2 linked regions of the Homo sapiens genome follow. The protein of the gene in region 1 interacts with the protein of each later gene in a pairwise test. Each region holds a gene or a part of one and is shown in the gene's direction. Other genes may lie near its edges.

Region 1 (4,024 bases):
CGAGGCAGGCGGATCACCTGAGGTTGGGAGTTGGAGACCAGCCTGACGAACATGGAGAAACCCCATCTCTACTGAAAATACAAAATTAGCTGGGCGTGGTGGCACATGCCTATAATCCCAGCTACTTGGGAGGCTGAGTCAGGAGAATCACTTGAATCTGGGAGGCAGAGGTTTTGGTGAGCCGAGATCATGCCACTGCACTCCAGCCTGGGCAACAAGAGCAAAACTCCATCTCAAAAAAAAAAAAAAGGAGAGGGCTTTACACACACTCCCTTCCCTTTCCCCAGTTCTTGTTCATTCCATCCATAACTCTCAGTGTGCTCAACACCAGGTGTGTATATGTTTGTGCTGAGCTGGTAGATAGCGTGTCATGAGCATAATAGGGAACCAGAGGAATTGGGGCTCTTTGGTCCACTAAAGGCCCAGTGACTGGAGCAGGTGACTCTCTGGCCACCCCATCCCCTCTCATGGGCACAGTGTTTTACCGCCGGCACTGGAGTTCATGTGTAGAAGGCAAAGCTGTCCCATGGTCAAGAATGCAGGCTTTCGGCCAGGTGCAGTGACTCATGCCTGTAATCTCCCAGCACTTTGGGAGGCTGAGGTGGGAGGATTGCTTGAGGCCAGGAACTCAAGACCAGCCTGGGCAACATAGTGAGACCTGTCTCTACAAAATAAAAAGTAGAAAAAAGAGCCGGGTGTGGTGGCTCACACCTGCGGTTCCTACTACTCAGGAGGCTGAGGCAGGAGGATAGCTTAAGCCTGGGAGGTCAAGGCTGCGGTGAGCTGTGATTGCGCTACGGTGCCCCAGCCTGGGTGACAGTAAGACCCTGTCTCAAAAAAAAAAAAAAAAAAAAAGCAGGCTTTGGTGTTAGACACTTCACTTCCAGGATCTACCACAAGCTGTGTGACCTTGGATCAGCACTTGACCTCTCTGGTCATTGCCTTCATTTGTAGGATGGGGATTACATCAGCCTCAGTTATAAGCAATGTATGAGCTAATGTATGTGAAGTGCTTGGCAGACACTAAAAACTTAATATTGAGAAATGGTGACTGTCATCATTATTATTGATTCAGAGAAATCCCTGATTCAGGGGAAACGTCATTCCCCTTTTCACTGCAGGCCTAGGCAGGCCCGGGTTAGGGTCCTGGTCTCCTGACATCTAGTTCCTGCTCAAGAGTGAGAACTGTTATTATTATTACTATTATTGAGACAGAGTTTCACTCTTGTTGCCCAGGCTGGAGTACAGTGCCACAATCTCTGCTCACTGAAACCTCCGCCTCCTGGGTTCAAGCGATTCTCCTGCCTCAGCCTCCTGAGTAGCTGGGATTACAGGCCTGCACCACCATGCTCGGCTAATTTTTGCATTTTTAGTAGAGATGGGGTTTCACCATGTTGGCCAGGCTGGTCTTGAACTCCTGACCTCAGGTGATCCACCCGCCTTGGCCTCCCAAAGTGTTGGGATTACAGGCATGAGCCACTGCGCCCGGCTGAGAGCTGTTATTACTATTCTCATTCCTCTGCCCAGCCTCTACCCTAGGCCTCCTCCACAGCAACCTGGTGACTGATTATGAGCCAGAACAGACTGTGCTAGGGGAGGGCCTGTGGGGAAGGGGCTGTGACGTGGTGGGAGACTCTTGGGGCTGCTTTCTGTCTTCGTGGGGCCGCCCCTGTGCACAGGGCAGGCCTGAGCAGGGCTTTTCCCTGGAAGGTACCTGAAGCACACCCTGGACCAGTACGTGGAGAGTGACTACACACTTCTGTATCTGCACCACGGCCTGACCAGCGACAACAAGCCCTCCCTCAGCTGGCTCCGTGATGCCTACCGGGAGTTTGACCGCAAGTGGGTTGGGGCATGGGGCCTGCACAGTCAGATCCAGAGGCAGCGGCTCTGCCAGCTTCCGGGCTGCCCTCCACTTGGGCAGGAGCTTATTCCAAGGCAGGGGGTGGCGGGGGCTGCCGTCTACGTCAATGTAAAGAATCTGCAGTCAGATCACCCTGGGCTTAAGTAAGGCCCAGTTTCTCAGCTTATTTGCACTCTGACCTCTTGTTTTACTTAACCTCTTTGAGCCTCCTGTTTTCTAATCTGTAAAATGAGACAGTGATGGCCCTTACCTCGCATGCTGGCCATGCATGTTCAAATCAGAAAATATGCACTGAGGCAGGGTGTGGTGGCTCACACCTGTAATCCCAGCACTTTGGGAAGCTGAGGCGGATGGATCACTTGAGGTCAGGAGTTCCAGACCAGCCTGGCCAACATGGTGAAACCCTGTCTCCGCTAAAAATACAAAAATTAGCTAGGTGTGGTGGTGGGTGCCTGTAATCCTAGTTACTCAGGAGGCTGAGGCAGGAGAATAGCTTGAATCCGGGAGGTGGAGGCTGCAATGAGCTGAGATCACACTCCAGCCTGGGTGAAGGAGACTCTGTCTCAAAAAAAAAAAGTATGCACTGGGACCCTAGCGTGGCACCTGTCCCACCACGCCTGCTCCTGAGTTGTCCATTCTGTCTCTGCAGGTACAAGAAAAACATCAAGGCCTTGTACATCGTGCATCCAACCATGTTCATCAAAACTCTGCTCATCCTCTTCAAGCCCCTCATCAGGTGAGTGGCCACGGGCAGGGCTGGTGGTCCCGGCTTGCCTGGAACTCTGAAGCTGGGAGGCTGGGCAGCCTGGGGACCACCAGGTGCGGCTGGGCTTCCGTCTGAACTGGGTGGGTGTTGAGGGGAGAGTGGAGGCCACCGGAAGCGGGCCCCCACAACCCAGGCCCTTTCTTCCACCAACAGCTTCAAGTTCGGGCAGAAGATCTTCTATGTGAATTACCTGAGCGAGCTGAGCGAGCACGTGAAGCTGGAGCAGCTGGGGATCCCTCGCCAAGTGCTCAAGTGAGGCGGGTGCGGCGGCTGGGGGCTCGTGAAGCCAGGGTAATGAGGACGTGTGTCCTGATTCAGAGACCGCGTGGGGCTTAGGCAGAGCAAGCCCGTGTCCCGACCTCTCCCAGGTCTTTGCTTTCTGCTGTGGAAAGCGGAGTTGTTACAGAGATCGCATGAGATGATCCTCCTGACCCCGCGTGGTCAATGCTTGATTGAATTGGCAGAGTGACTCCAGAGCCAGGCAGGACCTGACCCACCTCCCTCTACTCCTACAGATATGACGACTTCCTGAAATCCACACAGAAGAGCCCCGCGACAGCCCCCAAGCCCATGCCCCCACGGCCCCCCCTGCCCAACCAGCAGTTTGGAGTCTCGCTGCAGCAGTAAGTATGAAAGGTGGCTGGGCCACGGCGGGGCGGGAAGGGCTGCAGGCCCGGCTCACCAGCCTTTTTCCCGCAGCCTCCAGGAGAAGAATCCAGAGCAGGAGCCCATTCCCATTGTACTCAGGGAGACTGTTGCCTACTTACAGGCCCACGGTGAGTGCCGGGCCTGCCTCCTCACCAGCCAGGTCTCCCGGCTCCCTTCAGGAAGCTGGGGAAGCTGCTGGGCAGGGCAGAGGGAGGTCCTGCAAGCCTCAACGTCCCCACCCAGCCCTGCCTAGAACCCCAAGACAGAGAAGGGGCAGGGAATCCAGCCGGTGCCCAGCGCTCGGAGGCTCACCAGGCCCTACTGTTTCCCAGCTCTCACCACCGAGGGCATCTTCCGGAGGTCGGCCAACACCCAAGTGGTCCGGGAAGTGCAGCAGAAGTACAACATGGGTGAGCAGCCCTGGGCTGTTGCAGGGCCATATGTGTGTTACTGGTAGGGGGCTTCTCTGCCCTCTGCTGCCCTGTAAATGAGAGTCTCAGAGTCTCTTCCTGCTGGAGGTTTCCGTGGCTCTGGGTGTCACATAAGTCCTACTTCTGCCAGGCCTGCTGCCTCATCGGTCGGGCTCCCGGGTCCTGGGTATAGGCACATTCAGAGGCAAGGAATAACGGTGGGGTGTGCCGGGCCCCACTTCCCCAGATGGCCGGAACCTGCATTCTCTGATCACAGAGGAAGAGGGAGGCAGGTGTCAGAGGGCGCCCCTGGGAGGAGGGGCTTATGCAGTGTCC
Region 2 (3,500 bases), on another chromosome or scaffold:
CTGTCACACAATTGTTCAATTATTCTTTTTAAATCATTTTTATTTCTGTCAGATCAGTAGTAATTATCTCTCTCATTCTAATTTTAGTAATTTGAGTCTTGTCTCTTTTTTTCTTGTTCAGTCTGTCTAAGGTTTGCCAACTTGTTGATCTTTTTAACTAACTAAATTTGGATTTGTTAATTTTCTTTTTCTTTCTAGAGATAGGGTCTCACTCTCACTCTGGAGTGAGTGGTGCAACCACAGCTTAGTGCAGCCTCGACCTTCAGGCTCAAGTGATCCTCCTTCCTTGGCCTCCCAAAGTACTGGGATTACAGGTGTGAGCCATCGTGCCCAGCCCATATGTAATTTTGATAGATCTTGCTAAATTGTCCTCCCTAGACAATTATAGACAATGTGTGTATAAATTATATTCCCAATGGCAATGTATGAGAGTACCCGCTTTTTCATACCTCTTGCCAGCACAGGGTGATATGAAACTTTTGGATTTTTGCCAATCTAATAGGTAAAACATGAAATCTTAATGTGTTTTTGATTTCTGAATTTTCTTATATTGGGTTAGCTTGGCCACCTTTCATATGTTTGAGCCAGCTGTATTTCTGTTTCTTGTAAATTATCTTTTCATATCCTTTACCTATTTTTCTACTGGACTGTTTAGCGTTTTCACTGATTTATAGGAACCTAACATTTATTAGGGAAATTATTCCTTTTCCTGATAGGAGTTGCTAGTATTTTCCCTAGTCTGCCTTGCAATGAACATTTAATTACCTGCCATGTGCAATATCCCAAGTGCTGGAGTTGTACTGTTAAACAAGAGGTCTCCAGCTGCCCTCCTGGAGGTTATGTTCTAATGCAGGGAGGTGGGGAGAAAATATACAAATAAGCAAGGTAATTTCCAGCCGTGGCCCATACCCAAAAAGATATAAAACAGGATAACATTATGATAACAGGTGAGTAATGTTTATATAACAAGCTGAGCGGGAGGCCGGGTGTGGTGGCGCATGCCTGTTATCCCAGCACTTTGGGAGGCCGAGGCGGGCGGATCACAAGTTCAGGAGATCGAGACCATCCTGTCTAACATGGCGAAACCCCGTCTCTACTAAAATTACAAAAAATTAGCTGGGCATGGTGGCACGTGCCTGTAGTCCCAGCCACTCGGGAGGCTGAGGCAGGAGAATCGCTTGAACCTGGGAGGTGGAGGTTGCAGTGAGCCGAGATCGCGCCACCGCACTCCAGCCTGGGCGACAGAGCGAGACTCCATCTCAAAGAAAGAAAGCTGAGTGGGAGATGATAGTAGAGTCCTAAAGGCAGATAGTGTTGTGTAGATAGTATCTGTTATACAAAAGGCAAGGTGGAATGAGCCATTTGTGTAGTTGGGGAAGAAGTGCTAAGACCACAAGGCAGATTGAACCCAGCATTCTTGGGGGCAGTGAAAGGAGGCCAGTGGTGCTGGGTGTCATGAGCAAGGGGAGAGGGGTATGAGGTGGGGCTGGAATGGTGGCAGACGCCAGACCCTGAGCATCTAGTAGGCCATGAGGAAGAGTGCAGATTTTATGCTAAGTGTCATGGAAAACCTCAGGAAGGTAATAAGCAGGAAATTACTGTATTGCAAGTAATTTTCCAAGTCATTAAAAATTACTCGAGAACTTTTAATGACTATTTGTTATTTCACGGTTTTATATATATATGTATGTGTATGTGTGTGTTTGTGTATATAAATACATATATTAATAGATTATAATATATATTATATATTATTATATATTTAGATATAATTACTATATTATAAATATATAATATATGTTATATTGTGTATAAATATATAATTATATTTAAGACAACTTATAAAATAAATTTATATAACATGTATAATAAATACAAATTATATATATTATATATAATAAATATAAAATAAATATATAATATATATTAAATATTTGTTTATTTATTTTTTTGAGACAGGGTCTTGCTCTGTTGCCCAGGTTGGAGTACAGTGGCAGGATCACAGCCCATTGTAGCATCAGCTTATCTTGCTCAAGTGATCCTCCTCCTTCAGCCTCCTGAGTAGCTGGACTACAGGCATGCACCACCACATCTGGTTAATTGTTTTTTGTTTTTTTTCAGACAGAGTCTTGCTTTGTCGTCCAGGCTGGAGTGCAGTGGCGCAATCTTGGCTCACTGCATCCTCCACCTCCCAGGTTCAAGCAATTCTCTGCCTCAGCTTCCCGAGTAACTGGGATTACAGGCACCCGCCACCACGCCCAGCTAATTTTTGTATTTTTTAGTAGAGACAGGGTTTCACCATCTTGGCCAGGCTGGTCTTGAACTCCTGACCTCGTGATCCATTCGTCTCAGCCTCCCAAAGTGCTGGGATTACAGGCATGAGCCACCACACCTGGCCATTTTTTTTTTTTTGAAACTGGGTCTCACTCTGTCGCCCAGGCTAGTGTGCAGTGGCGCAGTCTCAGCTCACTGCAGCCTCGACCTCCTGGGCTCAAGCGATCCTCCCACCTCAGCCTCCTGAGTAGCTGAGACCACAGGGACCCACCACCACACCCTGCTGATTTTTTATTTTTTGTAGAGATAGGGTTTCACCATGTTGCCCAGACTAATTTTTAAATTCTTGGTAGAGATGGGTGCCCCCTATGTTGCCCAGGCTGGTCATGAGCTCCTGGGGTCAAGTGATCCTCCTGCCTTAGCCTTCCAAAGGGCTGAGATTACAGGTGTGAGCCACTGTGCCTGGCCATGTGGTTATAGATAAACTGCCATTTGTTAAACTCATTGGTAATGTTGTTTTTTCTCTCCTAATTTTTAATCTTGTAAAATCTTGATAAGCAGATTGATAATTCTGATTGCCTTCTTAGGCTATTTTCCTACAATTAGCATTTATGAGCAATTTTTAAACGTTTGATACATGAAATTCAACAGCCCTCTGATGCATGCTTTTATATTACAGAATGTGTGAATGACAACTACTGGTTTGGGAGGGACAAAAGCTGTGAATATTGCTTTGATGAACCACTGCTGAAAAGAACAGATAAATACCGAACATACAGCAAGAAACACTTTCGGATTTTCAGGGTAGGTAATGAATACCCATGTATCTAGGAGAGCTGGTAATTTGGTCATTGTTTTTAGATATTTTCCCACTATAAATCTCTGCTATTCAAAGTCTGAAACAAAATGTTCTCTATTTTAGGAAGTGGGTCCTAAAAACTCTTACATTGCATACATAGAAGATCACAGTGGCAATGGAACCTTTGTAAATACAGAGCTTGTAGGGAAAGGAAAACGCCGTCCTTTGAATAACAATTCTGAAATTGCACTGTCACTAAGCAGAAATAAAGGTAATATTATTATCTTATGGTTACTGGAATTTTTTTTTTCCACTCTCTCATAGGAGGAAAATTTGTCCTGTCCTTACAGAATATGGTTTAAGTGAGTAAAGATGAGTAAGTTGCTGGGCGTGGTGGCTCACACCTGTAATCCCAGCACTTTGGGAG

Evidence for each region.
Region 2: the proteins of ARHGAP1 (region 1) and CHEK2 interact in a two-hybrid assay, tested with the Homo sapiens proteins (one large-scale study listed by BioGRID and IntAct).

Annotation. Positions count from the first base shown.
Region 1 is NC_000011.10:46,679,869-46,683,892, reverse strand, and holds part of ARHGAP1 (rho GTPase-activating protein 1), read left to right. Parts: intron 1-1,710; coding exon 1,711-1,842; intron 1,843-2,513; coding exon 2,514-2,600; intron 2,601-2,783; coding exon 2,784-2,882; intron 2,883-3,145; coding exon 3,146-3,253; intron 3,254-3,329; coding exon 3,330-3,406; intron 3,407-3,610; coding exon 3,611-3,688; intron 3,689-4,024. UniProt on the Homo sapiens protein: GTPase activator for the Rho, Rac and Cdc42 proteins, converting them to the putatively inactive GDP-bound state. Cdc42 seems to be the preferred substrate.
Region 2 is NC_000022.11:28,724,821-28,728,320, reverse strand, and holds part of CHEK2 (serine/threonine-protein kinase Chk2), read left to right. Parts: intron 1-2,953; coding exon 2,954-3,078; intron 3,079-3,196; coding exon 3,197-3,344; intron 3,345-3,397; coding exon of another isoform or gene 3,398-3,435; intron 3,436-3,500. UniProt on the Homo sapiens protein: Serine/threonine-protein kinase which is required for checkpoint-mediated cell cycle arrest, activation of DNA repair and apoptosis in response to the presence of DNA double-strand breaks.